Homo sapiens: one gene and its partner. The protein of the gene in region 2 interacts with the protein of the main gene of each other region in a biochemical or structural test. Each region holds a gene or a part of one and is shown on either strand. Other genes may lie near its edges. The genes, in order: SERPINB5 and COL1A2.

Region 1 (5,165 bases), on a different chromosome or scaffold from region 2:
GGCTATGTTGAATATTAGGTTCAGGGACACCATAACTAATTTAAAACAAATGTGCATGGCATTGAGAAAAACACTCTTCATAAGAAGAAACAATGTTTTAAGCACATACAGTGTCCTAATATAATGACTTTTGAGGGTGGGTTTAGAGTGAAAAGGGCTGGGAAGATCTCTATGTCCCAAGGTGTCTGATTCCATTATAGATGTTTATGCAGTTGAGAGTCATTCTAGCACTGCCCTGGTCTTTTACTCCCTAGGATGAAAGGAGTGTGGGAGAAAGAAGTCAGAGCTGAGGGCTAGGAAGAAAGGAAAACAAGGGAAAAGAGGAAGTAATTATTCTTATTTCTTTTTAGTCTGCCTCAATCTTCAAAAGAGCATTTTACCTACAGGGATGCTTTGGGGTTTTTTGGGGTTTGTTCTTTTTGTTTTGTTTTGTTTTTGTTGTTTTTATGTTTTGAGTTTTTGTTTTGTTTTTTTTTTTTGAGACGGAGTTTTGCTCTGTCGCCAGGCTAGAGTGCAGTGGCCTGATCTTGGCTCACTGCAACCTCCGCCTCCCAGGTTCAAGCGATTCTCCTGCCTCAGCCTCCTGAGTAGCTGGGTCTACAGGTGGGCGCCACCACGCCCAGCTAATTTTTGTATTTTTAGTAGAGACGGGGTTTCACTATGTTGGCCAGGATGGTCTCAATCTCTTGACCTTGTGATCTGCCTGCTTCAGGGATGCTTTTGTAAACGCACGGCTTGGTTCTATTTCAAAATAGTCTAACTTAATAGGAAAAAAAAAACAAGACATGTAGTTCAATAATATTTTATTGTCAATAGCATAGGAAAAATTCAATATTGAATCTCAGAACAAGAAGAACCTATTTACAATGCAGGTCAAGGAAGAGATGGGAGAAGGAATGTCACAAAATTTTTGGTAAATACATATTTTTTATAGAGAAGTAATCCATGAACCTGCAACACGGATAGCTTATCCAACCAACTTTACAAATTACTATTAATATAAGTTACATGCTTGCCATCTAAAGTAACTAAACCCATAGACTGAAAAACTATGTGTCAAGGTAACGTGAGCACTTTAATCACTTTACTTATATTTTCTAAAGGCAGTAGTTTCCTCTCCTTTTCCCGCTATCATATTAGATGAAGAGACAAGTTCCTTCAACACAAATTCTGATATCGGCTATTGTGAGAATCCCTGTGCAAGTCAGCTAGAAGCCCCTGCCACCAGTCTAGTGCCAACCAAATGACCAGATGGGACAGCTATCAAAAATGAAAGTGAATTTATATTAAGATCTGAACTTCCTCTTGGGGTCTTGCATTTCAGCTACTAGAGGTCTATAATTCCTTATCCAACATTCCACAATCTGAAAAGCTCTGCGAACGAAGTGTTTTTGTAAGTTGGTGGCATACGCATTTGGCAGCAAATTTTGACCCCTTATGGGCTACTTAGTCTTTATGTATCCATTTTGTCTGAATATTCTACATTTTGTTGCAGCATATTAAGGTGTTGATTTATAGGGTGCTGCCCCAGATCTGATCCATGAAGTTCTATAACATACAGTGTATGTAAAATATTATCTTTTGAAAATCCCCAAAATTCAGAATTTTAATAAACACCTGCCTGCCAGGGCTTAACATAAGGACTTCTGGACCTATAGTAGCCTGAGCATGTGCCCAAGTTTCACTGGAGCCAGGGCAGTTTCGTGGGTCCCATGCACTACACTTTCTTCAGTCTTTCAGGGAAGCGAGAATGTCTGGAACATTCTCTATCCCAAAGAAGGAAAGCATAGTGCTGGGAAGAAGAGCTTCCAAATCTTCCTTATAGGAATTTTCTTTGTGGAAGACTGTATTTCTGCCAACTACCCCGGACAATTTGACAAATAATGAATAAATATTTTTCCTCTAACGTGATTCCTTTTCATTAAAAGCGTATGTCATTGTCTTATGGGAAAAAAGGAAACAAAAGATAGAATTGGAAAAAAAAAAAAGGTCTATCTGTGTGAAGGCTACATATGACAAGTACTGGCGGCTTCCTGATCCAGCAACATTAGCAATTTATTGTATCTAGAAAATGAATCTCTGGATGCAGAGTTTACAGAAATCGGCATCCACAGAAAAGTCAGGGAGGACTTAACATGGGCTATGCCACTTAAGGAGAACAGAATTTGCCAAAGAAAATAATGTTTCGAGTTTTGTTGTGCCTGATGATGTAAATAAAGGGATGGTCAGCATTCAATTCATCCTTGTGCTGCAGGATCCGTGCTCCTGGCACCTCTATGGAATCCCCACCATCTTCAGTTATTTCTAAGCACACTTTGTGGATAACATTTGATAGGGCCACTCCCTTGGTCTCTGACATTCCAGAGAAATCAGATGTGTCTTCACTGAAGATATGTTTCAGCCCTAGATTTTCCAGACAAGCCTTGGGATCAATCATCTTTTCCACCTTAAATTTTGGAATGGAGAGTTTGACCTTGGCATTGGCCATGGTGCTGGGATTAGTCCACTGTGACAGTGACTCTGAGTTGAGTTGTTTTTCAATCTGAAGGACAAAAATGAAAAGAAATTATTTTTATTTATTTCCAACTGTAAAAGACCTGGCTCAATTGAAAACATAAGGTGTTATGATAAGCCCAGCTTCAAAGCAGTCTGGGTGGAACATCAAAGATGGCCCAGAAGTTTTTGGTATGTGACTCAGGAGACCCAGCAGCCACCCAGCTGTGTCCTCCTCCTCCCCAGCCTATAACAGTGTTCCATGTGCACTGAAATTTATGAGGACAGGGTTCTGTTTTTTCATTTTAAGTTAGAGAGTAGTTTTTTGTTTGTTTGTTTGTTTGTTTGGGTTTTTTTTAGACAATCTTGTTCTGTCACCCGGGCTGGAGTGTAATAGTGTGATCGTCGCTCATTGCAACCTCTGCCTCCTGGGTTCAAGCAATTCTCGTGCCTCAGCCTCTCGAGTAGCTGGGATTACAGGCACACTCCACCATGCCCAGCTAAATTTTCTTTTGTATTTGTAGTAGAGACAGGGTTTCATCATGTTGGCCAAGCTGGTCTCAAACTCCTGGCTTCAAGTGATGTGCCAGCCTCAGCCTCCCAAAGTGCTGGGATTAAAGGTGTGAGCCACCGCACCCAACCTTAAGTTAGAGAGTAGATTTATAGAAACAAATGCCTGGATCATGATGTTGCATACACAATAGTGAAATGAATATAAAATTAGAAAGCTTTTTACACATATTTCTTGAATGCTTATTGTAATTTCTCTACGAGGAAATCCAGAATATTCATGTACTAGGAATGGCATCAGATTTAGAAAATTAAATTAAAGCTAAAGTTACTTTTTTTTTTTAATGGGAATTTGAACTAACTCTGAGCCATGCCCTAGGGTCATAGGTAGTGAATGCATCCATTTTAGCTGTTTTAAAAAATGAGAGAGATGCGGCTGGGCGCAGTGGCTCACGCCTGCAATCCCAGCACTTTGGGAAGCCGAGGTGGGTGGATCACGAGGTCAGGAGATCGAGACCATCCTGGCTAACACAGTGAAAGCCCGTCTCTACTAAAAATACAAAAAATTAGCCAAGCGTCGTGGCAGGCACCTGTAGTCCCAGCTACTCGGGAGGCTGAGGAAGGAGAATGGCATGAACCCAGGAGGCGGAGCTTGCAGTGAGCTGAGATCATGCCACTGCACTCCAGCCTGGGGGACAGAGCAAGACTCCATCTCAAAAAAAAAAAAAAAATCATTTCCAAAACTCAAAAGGTCATTTTCTTTAGTTCTATACTTTAAGAAGAAAATAATTGAAAGCCAAAATTGACAAATGGGATCTAATTAAACTAAAGAGCTTCTGCACAGCAAAAGAAACTACCATCAGAGTGAACAGGCAACCTACAGAATGGGAGAAAATTTTTGCAATCTACTCATCTGACAAAGGGCTAATATCCAGAATCTACAAAGAACTCAAACAAATTTACAAGAAAAAATCAAACAACCCCATCAACAAGTGGGCAAAGGATGTGAACAGACACTTCTCAAAAGAAGACATTTATGCAGCCAACAGACACATGAAAAAATGCTCATCATCACTGGCCATCAGAGAAATGCAAATCAAAACCACAATGAGATACCATCTCACACCAGTTAGAATGGCGATCATTAAAAAGTCAGGAAACAAGAGGTGCTGGAAAGGATATGGAGAAATAGGAACACTTTTACACTGTTGGTGGGACCGTAAACAAGTTCAACCACTGTGGAAGTCAGTGTGGCAGTTCCTCAAGGATCTAGAACTAGAAATACCATTTAACCCAGCCATCCCATTAGTGGGTGTATACTCAAAGGATTATAAATCATGCTGCTATAAAGACACATGCACACGTATGCTTATTGGAACACTATTCACAATAGCAAAGACTTGGAACCAACCCAAATGTCCAATAATGATAGACTGGATTAAGAAAACGTGGCCCATATACACCATGGAATACTATGCAGCCATAAAAAATGATGAGTTCGTGTCCTTTGTAGGGACACGGATGAAGCTGGAAACCATCATTATCAGCAAACTATCACAAGGACAACAAACCAAACACTGCATGTTCTCACTCATAGGTGGGAATTGAACCATGAGAACACCTGGAAACAGGAAGGGGAACACCACACACCAGGGCCTGTTGTGGGGTGGGGGGAGGGGGGAGGGATAGCATTGGGAGATATACCTAATATAAATGACAACTTAATGGGTGCAGCACACCAACATGGCACATGTATATACATGTAACAAACCTGCACATTGTGCACATGTACCCTAAAACTTAATGTATAATTAAAAAAAAGAAAAATAAATTATTGAAATAAAAAAAGAAGAAGAAGAAGAAAATAATTGATGTTTATTGGAGGGCGTTTTAAGAACGAAAGGTAAAATCCAAGACAGCTGGATAATGGCTGAAAGATCAAAGCATAAAATGGAAAGAAAAAAAACAGAGAGAGTAATGCACCAAAGAAGAAGAAGGACAGGAATTATAATTCAGTTAATAAAGTGGTGGCTAAAACATAATGGCAACCAAAGGAGCAAGCTGGAGACTGGATGGTCCCCTGGAAAGTCAGCAAATCACTGAGGCCCATGTGGATATATAGCAAGTGATCCAGGCCTTCAAAGAGCCCCTTCTTCCTTCCT
Region 2 (7,020 bases):
AAGTATTTACTCTTAAGCACTTTCAAAATGCTATTTAAATACTCTTGCCTCAACAAGATTTTCTAGATTCAAATTAAGTATTCTGCCAAAAGCTGAATATGCCTGACAGAACTCTTAATGTATGGGAAATATTATTTTAATGAAATATTAACTAACCTACTTGTATTAAGGGAAAGATTAAATATATATCTGGATCCATATTTTTATGTGATAACTTTCTCCCCTTTTGTAAAAACCAAGATTCCCCCATTTTGTCTGATAGTTTACCAAGAAGAAGTTGACTCTACAATGTTTTCATGTTTAGGGTCACCCTGGAAAACCCGGACGACCTGGTGAGAGAGGAGTTGTTGGACCACAGGTGAGACTTTTTACATTGGTAGATAGCACAAACATCATAGGCCTATAAGATAGTTGCTAAAACTAGCATCAATCTAAATGACAACATAGATGTCACCCAAACTCATAACATGAATCGAAGGCATCTAATAAAGAAAAAAGCCTAGTTAAAAAAAAATGCATATACATTTTATTCATGCAAATAATGGAATATAAATGACAGCAAGCATACCATAAGCAACTAAATTGTGTTTTCTACAAATACCGTATTATTAGTTACTCACATTAGAGCAAGTTAATTTGTCACTCTGTGCTTAGAGGTATACTAGACTTTGGTTCAAAGCTTGAACTTTGATGAGAATAAATACTTTGGAGGGAAGAAGTCACTGTCTTTTTATTTATGGTAAAACATTATTCACCATCTTCTGTATTTCTTTCTAAGGGTGCTCGTGGTTTCCCTGGAACTCCTGGACTTCCTGGCTTCAAAGGCATTAGGGTGAGCACATTCTTTACTCAGAAGAGAGAAAATGCCTATTAATTTTTGGAAAAAACTCAAGTATGTTTAAAATCTTGGGTGACATATACTCACTTTCAAATCCCTGGAGTTTGCCAAAGGGAAGAAAGAGTTAAAGAGTCAGATTTCTTGAAAGTAAAGTGGGGTGCAATTTTTTCAGTCTGTTCATAGCTACCAAAAAACAGGCTCACTACAGAGAAAATTATATAGAACATGTATTACTTATTGAGTATTTACAACCGTCTGAAAATCATAAAATTATTAAGGATGGAAAAGATGTGAGAGAACACCTAGTCCTCCATCCTTCTCTCTCAATGGCAAGAAAGTTAAGTGACCTATCTAGGGCAATAGACTGAGTTTGCTGGGACCTGGAACACTGGACTTCTTTCTACTGCAGCAGACAAGACTTACCCAAGAGAGATTAATGGCAAAGATATACAATACAATTTTTATTTGACCAAACACTATCATGGAACAGCATTTTATAATAAGGCTTTCCTTTCAGGGACACAATGGTCTGGATGGATTGAAGGGACAGCCCGGTGCTCCTGGTGTGAAGGTAAATATTAAATTAGAAGCACTGTTTTTAAGCACTTGATTGAAATTCCCCATGACCTCCAAAAAAGTATATTATACTGAAGACTACCCATATTACAAAAAGTATTTTTATTTTTTTTCTTTCCTGTACTTCAAATCCCTCAAGGATGGGGACTATGAGAGTCTGTGAAAAAAGGTCAATTATTAATATTTATTAAAATTCAATATCTATTAAACAATTGAGATAAAAATAATATTAATAGTTTCTTGTTCCATTTCCTTTCCTCCCTCTATAATTCCAGTGTATCTCTGCAGCCAAAATAAAAGTAAATAAACATATAATCAGAGATTACGACACTCTGTATTATTTTAAACTGTAAATTCTCCTTTGCCACACACTAATTAGATAGGTACATTCATGTCGCTATACACTTTTCAACCTCTTTCCTGTGATTTATCTGTGCACACTCAAAAAAATTTTAATTAGGTAATTAAAGTCTCAGAAGTGTGTTATCTCTTGGCTAGGCTCTTCTCTGACAGCGTTTTCAACTATAAAATGTTCTCTTTCCTATTAAGGAGATAATGTGATATTAAAGTGAATACCAACGTAATTACAAATTAATGAGTAACGAATACTAGCGGGACCAGAAATGAACATGAATATGGAGAATCTATTCTAACTTTCCAGCTGCCACACAAATGGATAAGGTCAAACTCATTCTCCCAAGAGCCCGATATAACAGCTCAGACTACTAATCACTGTATCATAAAATGTTAGAGCTGCAAGGAGCTTTGGAGACCCCCTCATTTTGCAGAGGTGGGAAACTGAGGCTTCGTGAGAGCAATTGACTTGCCCAAAGTCACACATCTAGAGGTTAGAAAGTCATAGGCTAGAAATGATCCCCCCTTGCCACTTCAATGCTTATTCCCAAAGAATAGACTTCACATAGAATCCTGGAAATTAAGGGTCCTTATGAGGTCTCTTAAACCATATTTCCCCTATATCTAAATCAGATTATCTTTAAAAAAAGTTCTTTTACATGTGCCATAGTATTAAATCCCACTACTACTACTACTACTACCCTGGTTTTTACTCAGGATAAGAATATAGATTGGAAATAAATATGATGGCTCTAAAAAATACCATGAAGCTTCAATTTTTCATGCACATTTTATGAAAGTGATAACACTGAGTGTTCAAAATAACTTTAAAAAGGATAAATATGGTTACATTGAAAGCAAATTTATCCTTTGCCATCTCTTTTTATGATATTGTTTCTAGTATATAATTGATATCCTGAATCTAAGGGAGAAATTGGGGAGGAGGTACACTCAAATAACCACATCTCCTTAGAACCTGGATATGTGGTACTATCTGAATAAAAACTCATGTTAGCACATTTTAAAATCTGTGTGTCTGGCATAATTGAAAAACAATCTATATGTGTAAGAAATATTATGAAGTATATGAATGGTTCAAAGTAAAAAAAATAGAGTAAAATTGCACTATCAGGAAAAATAATTGTTATATTTAATGAACAAAAACTCAATCCTTCTCCATGTAGGGTGAACCTGGTGCCCCTGGTGAAAATGGAACTCCAGGTCAAACAGTAAGTATTGACTACTTCATTGTAAATTTAAATGTGTACACTCTTTATGAGATGGAACTTCTTTAATGTTTTTGCTAATCACTGTATCCTTCAGCATTGTATTCTTTGATGTTTTTCTAATAGCCTTCTGATACTTAATTGAAATCCACTACTGTTTAGTTGGAATTAGAAGGCAACTTATTTATTTTTAGTGTATTCTTGTACAGGTTGGAAACTGAACAAAGCAAATGATGCCTGTGACTTTTTTTAAATTAGCATTCTGGATTTTATTGAAAATATTTCTGCTTCTAGGGAGCCCGTGGGCTTCCTGGTGAGAGAGGACGTGTTGGTGCCCCTGGCCCAGCTGTAAGTGCTTCCATTTTTGTTCAGTTTCATCCTTTTAAAAAATCTTCTAATGGCTGTCATTTAAGTTTCCACCTGATCTTCCCTTTATTTTCTTCTTAGGGTGCCCGTGGCAGTGATGGAAGTGTGGGTCCCGTGGGTCCTGCTGTAAGTTTTGACACTGGGGAGTTTGAAAGGAGTTGAGAATGTGGGGTGGGTGCTGTCTTCTTCATTAATCTCTTACGAAATAGCATCATTTCAGACACTTTACCAAATGTTCTGTGAGGTCTTTTGAAGGCTCCATTTATAAGTAGTGTAAGCCATTTATAAGTACCTGAACTTTTGATTGATGTATAAAGCAAAATATCCCCACCCTGGATACCATGAATGTCTTGCCTTTGATGAGATCCTAACGACAACAGACTGGTTGTCAGTTTTTTTCTTTACTAATATAAACAGTGTCATGCCACTGTAAGCAACTTCAATCTTCTGCCATTGTTATTGTTTTCTTAATTTACTTGGAGGAAATTTCTTACCACCTTCTGCTTTGATTTCAGGGTCCCATTGGGTCTGCTGGCCCTCCAGGCTTCCCAGGTGCCCCTGGCCCCAAGGTAAAAACACTGGTGACCATTGTCACTACTTTGATAAACTTTTTACTGTGATGTGAAAGATTGGAACTGTGTTTGCAGATAAAGAGATAATTACGAAACAGTTACCTTAATTATTCCTTCCCTTCAAAATGGACATAGAATGACCAGTTTTCTCACTCTACATTTGAAATAGATCATTTCTCTGCACTGTGCACTGTGCCCATCGATATAGATGACAACATGGAAATTGTCTCTAGGACTAGTTAGTTAGGACTGACTGAGAACCAGAGTCAACCACAGAGAGACAGAAGGAGAGGGAAGGTAGTAACAGTAGCCAAGATGGCAGAATCAAGCAAGGAAAATAGGAAACCAAACTCAAATCTTGTAATAAAACGGATAAGAAAAATAATTGCAATTTTGAAGTTTTATGAAGACATTTCATAAAACTTGGCATCTTAAAAACAGATATGCTGTTTCATTATTTGCTGGTTAATTCCTTGGTTTAATTTCCTCTTTTAGGGTGAAATTGGAGCTGTTGGTAACGCTGGTCCTGCTGGTCCCGCCGGTCCCCGTGGTGAAGTGGGTCTTCCAGGCCTCTCCGGCCCCGTTGGACCTCCTGTAAGTAGCCACTGTCTTTAAACTTTATTGAGTAAAAGAAAACAAAGGTGGAGTATGGGGAAGAAGAAGAATGAAGATGGGGTCAAAGAAGAACCGAAATATTCCAATTAACTGATATCCTTCTCCTTTCCTTTTCCTCATAGGGTAATCCTGGAGCAAACGGCCTTACTGGTGCCAAGGGTGCTGCTGTGAGTATACCTGCGTAGCTAAAATGTGCTGCTATGATTTTAAAGGCATTTAATGTGTGCTGCCTCTACAGCCCATCACCTCCCTAATGGACCACACTGCATTTTCCTTCACAGGGCCTTCCCGGCGTTGCTGGGGCTCCCGGCCTCCCTGGACCCCGCGGTATTCCTGGCCCTGTTGGTGCTGCCGGTGCTACTGGTGCCAGAGGACTTGTTGTAAGTGGTCATGACTGTGGTTCTCATCATCCTGAAATACCACCTCTGCCATCATTTCATCACTATCTAGACTTCCACTTGTAGTTTTATTATTCCTATTTTTCTCTTCCTTAGCATTTTTAGTTTATATTTCTTATATATATATGTACACTCCCGTCTGCTATATGCACACAGACATGCCCTTCCTGTTATCTTAAATCATTACCTCAAGGTAAATGAGGCAAAGTTCTACAATATCAGTTTTGTCCCTTCGACCAATAATACCATTCCCCTGTACTCAATTTAAATATGAACAGGGTACATTTCCTAGAGAACTTGAGCTTCTCTTTACCTTGACCCACAAATATTCTAAGAGATTTGTCTGCAAGAGAGTTTCAACAAATGTTTGTCCTTTGACCACTGTTCTGTATTGAACCCTAGGGTGAGCCTGGTCCAGCTGGCTCCAAAGGAGAGAGCGGTAACAAGGGTGAGCCCGTAAGTAGCTCTATCATCACACTTTTATAAAGTTAATTGTTTTTCTCATTCCAGTTTCTCCAGCTGGACATAGTATTAAAATTATTTTTTTACTCCCTCTTCTTTTGTTCTTTTCATTAAACAGGGCTCTGCTGGGCCCCAAGGTCCTCCTGGTCCCAGTGGTGAAGAAGGAAAGAGAGGCCCTAATGGGGAAGCTGGATCTGCCGGCCCTCCAGGACCTCCTGGGCTGAGAGTAGGTTTCAAATGCTCCCAACACCCTAACACACCAGAGGCAGATTATGATACCCCTTCACTGGGAATTGGTCAAAATTACTGACTGTGTTTTCTTAGGCAAAAAAAGCATCTGCTTTCCATCTGCCTTATTAAATCAGTGACTCTCAATTTAATATGTTATAAAATTGGCCTGGAAACAATGTTGACCTACTTTTGCAGGATGCTCATCTATGAATTCCTCTAGGGGTTGGGTGAAGTGTTTTGGCTTGGTTTGTGTCTGTATCTCCCCTGTAAGGAGATCATGCTATTTTTTACAAACTCTACCTTATCAAAGCCAAGAGATTTCTTTAATTCTCTCTATTTCATGTACTTTCTTGCAGGGTAGTCCTGGTTCTCGTGGTCTTCCTGGAGCTGATGGCAGAGCTGGCGTCATGGTAAGCTGTCTATCACTTACTTCCTAGAAAGGGGCTTGCTGCTTCTGGTGGTGGGTGTGTCATTAGCTTTAGCATCCTCCTCCTCTATCTGTTTTTTTTTTTTTTTTGAATAGGGCCCTCCTGGTAGTCGTGGTGCAAGTGGCCCTGCTGGAGTCCGAGGACCTAATGGAGATGCTGGTCGCCCTGGGGAGCCTGGTCTCATGGGACCCAGAGTAAGTTTCAAACTGATTCTGAGCAAATCACACCTGGCATTACTTCCTTCTTTAAAGGGTTGGTTAATATTGAAGATAACAATAAAAACATCAAAAGTAAATTTGTTAGTAGTCTTGCTGACAGTTGCATTTTTGACTTTATCAAAGCTCAGTAGATATTTTCATGCATTTAATTAGTTCATAAATTTTCTATTTATTACTTGATACAATGGCTATGAGGTTTTTGGAAGAATAGATCTATTTTAATATATCCAAATTAGATTGGTCCTCCTATCAGCATGAATCTTTTATCTTAATTTGTGAGTTTTATATAAGGTGTTCATGAAATATATTAGGACTATACATTTTTGGTTTATTAGATTCATAAGTGAAGTCTTTTTCCTAGCAATCACAAAGTGCTGTAATGTATTCAGCATCACACTAGCTATGGAGAAATAACCTCTAGGTCCATAGACACACTAATCCATAGCAATAGAGTAATTTTTTTGCCTCCATTGCCTCTTATGGGTGAATATCAACTGTAATTGTACCATAAACAAGTAATAGGGACACCAAATATAGCAATAAGAAATCCACTTTGGAAATTGTTTACTAAAAGTATTAGTTTTTCTATTATGAGGTAAATAACGTGATACATTTTGCCCATATACATGTTGCTTAACAGTTTCTTGAGATATCTATAAAAGGATGAGTTGCACTAAATTTCAATAAAAGGAAAGCCACAAAAAAATAGAAGAAAAATTTCAGAACTCTTTTCACA

What was found.
Region 1: the proteins of COL1A2 (region 2) and SERPINB5 form a complex in vitro, tested with the Homo sapiens proteins (one study listed by BioGRID).

Annotation. Positions count from the first base shown.
Region 1 is NC_000018.10:63,500,707-63,505,871, reverse strand, and holds the end of SERPINB5 (serpin B5), read right to left. Parts: intron 2,543-5,165; coding exon 2,150-2,542; 3' UTR 787-2,149; downstream 1-786. UniProt on the Homo sapiens protein: Tumor suppressor. It blocks the growth, invasion, and metastatic properties of mammary tumors.
Region 2 is NC_000007.14:94,404,895-94,411,914, forward strand, and holds part of COL1A2 (collagen alpha-2(I) chain precursor), read left to right. Parts: intron 1-304; coding exon 305-358; intron 359-778; coding exon 779-832; intron 833-1,355; coding exon 1,356-1,409; intron 1,410-2,952; coding exon 2,953-2,997; intron 2,998-3,288; coding exon 3,289-3,342; intron 3,343-3,441; coding exon 3,442-3,486; intron 3,487-3,875; coding exon 3,876-3,929; intron 3,930-4,427; coding exon 4,428-4,526; intron 4,527-4,669; coding exon 4,670-4,714; intron 4,715-4,828; coding exon 4,829-4,927; intron 4,928-5,347; coding exon 5,348-5,401; intron 5,402-5,525; coding exon 5,526-5,633; intron 5,634-5,994; coding exon 5,995-6,048; intron 6,049-6,161; coding exon 6,162-6,260; intron 6,261-7,020. UniProt on the Homo sapiens protein: Type I collagen is a member of group I collagen (fibrillar forming collagen).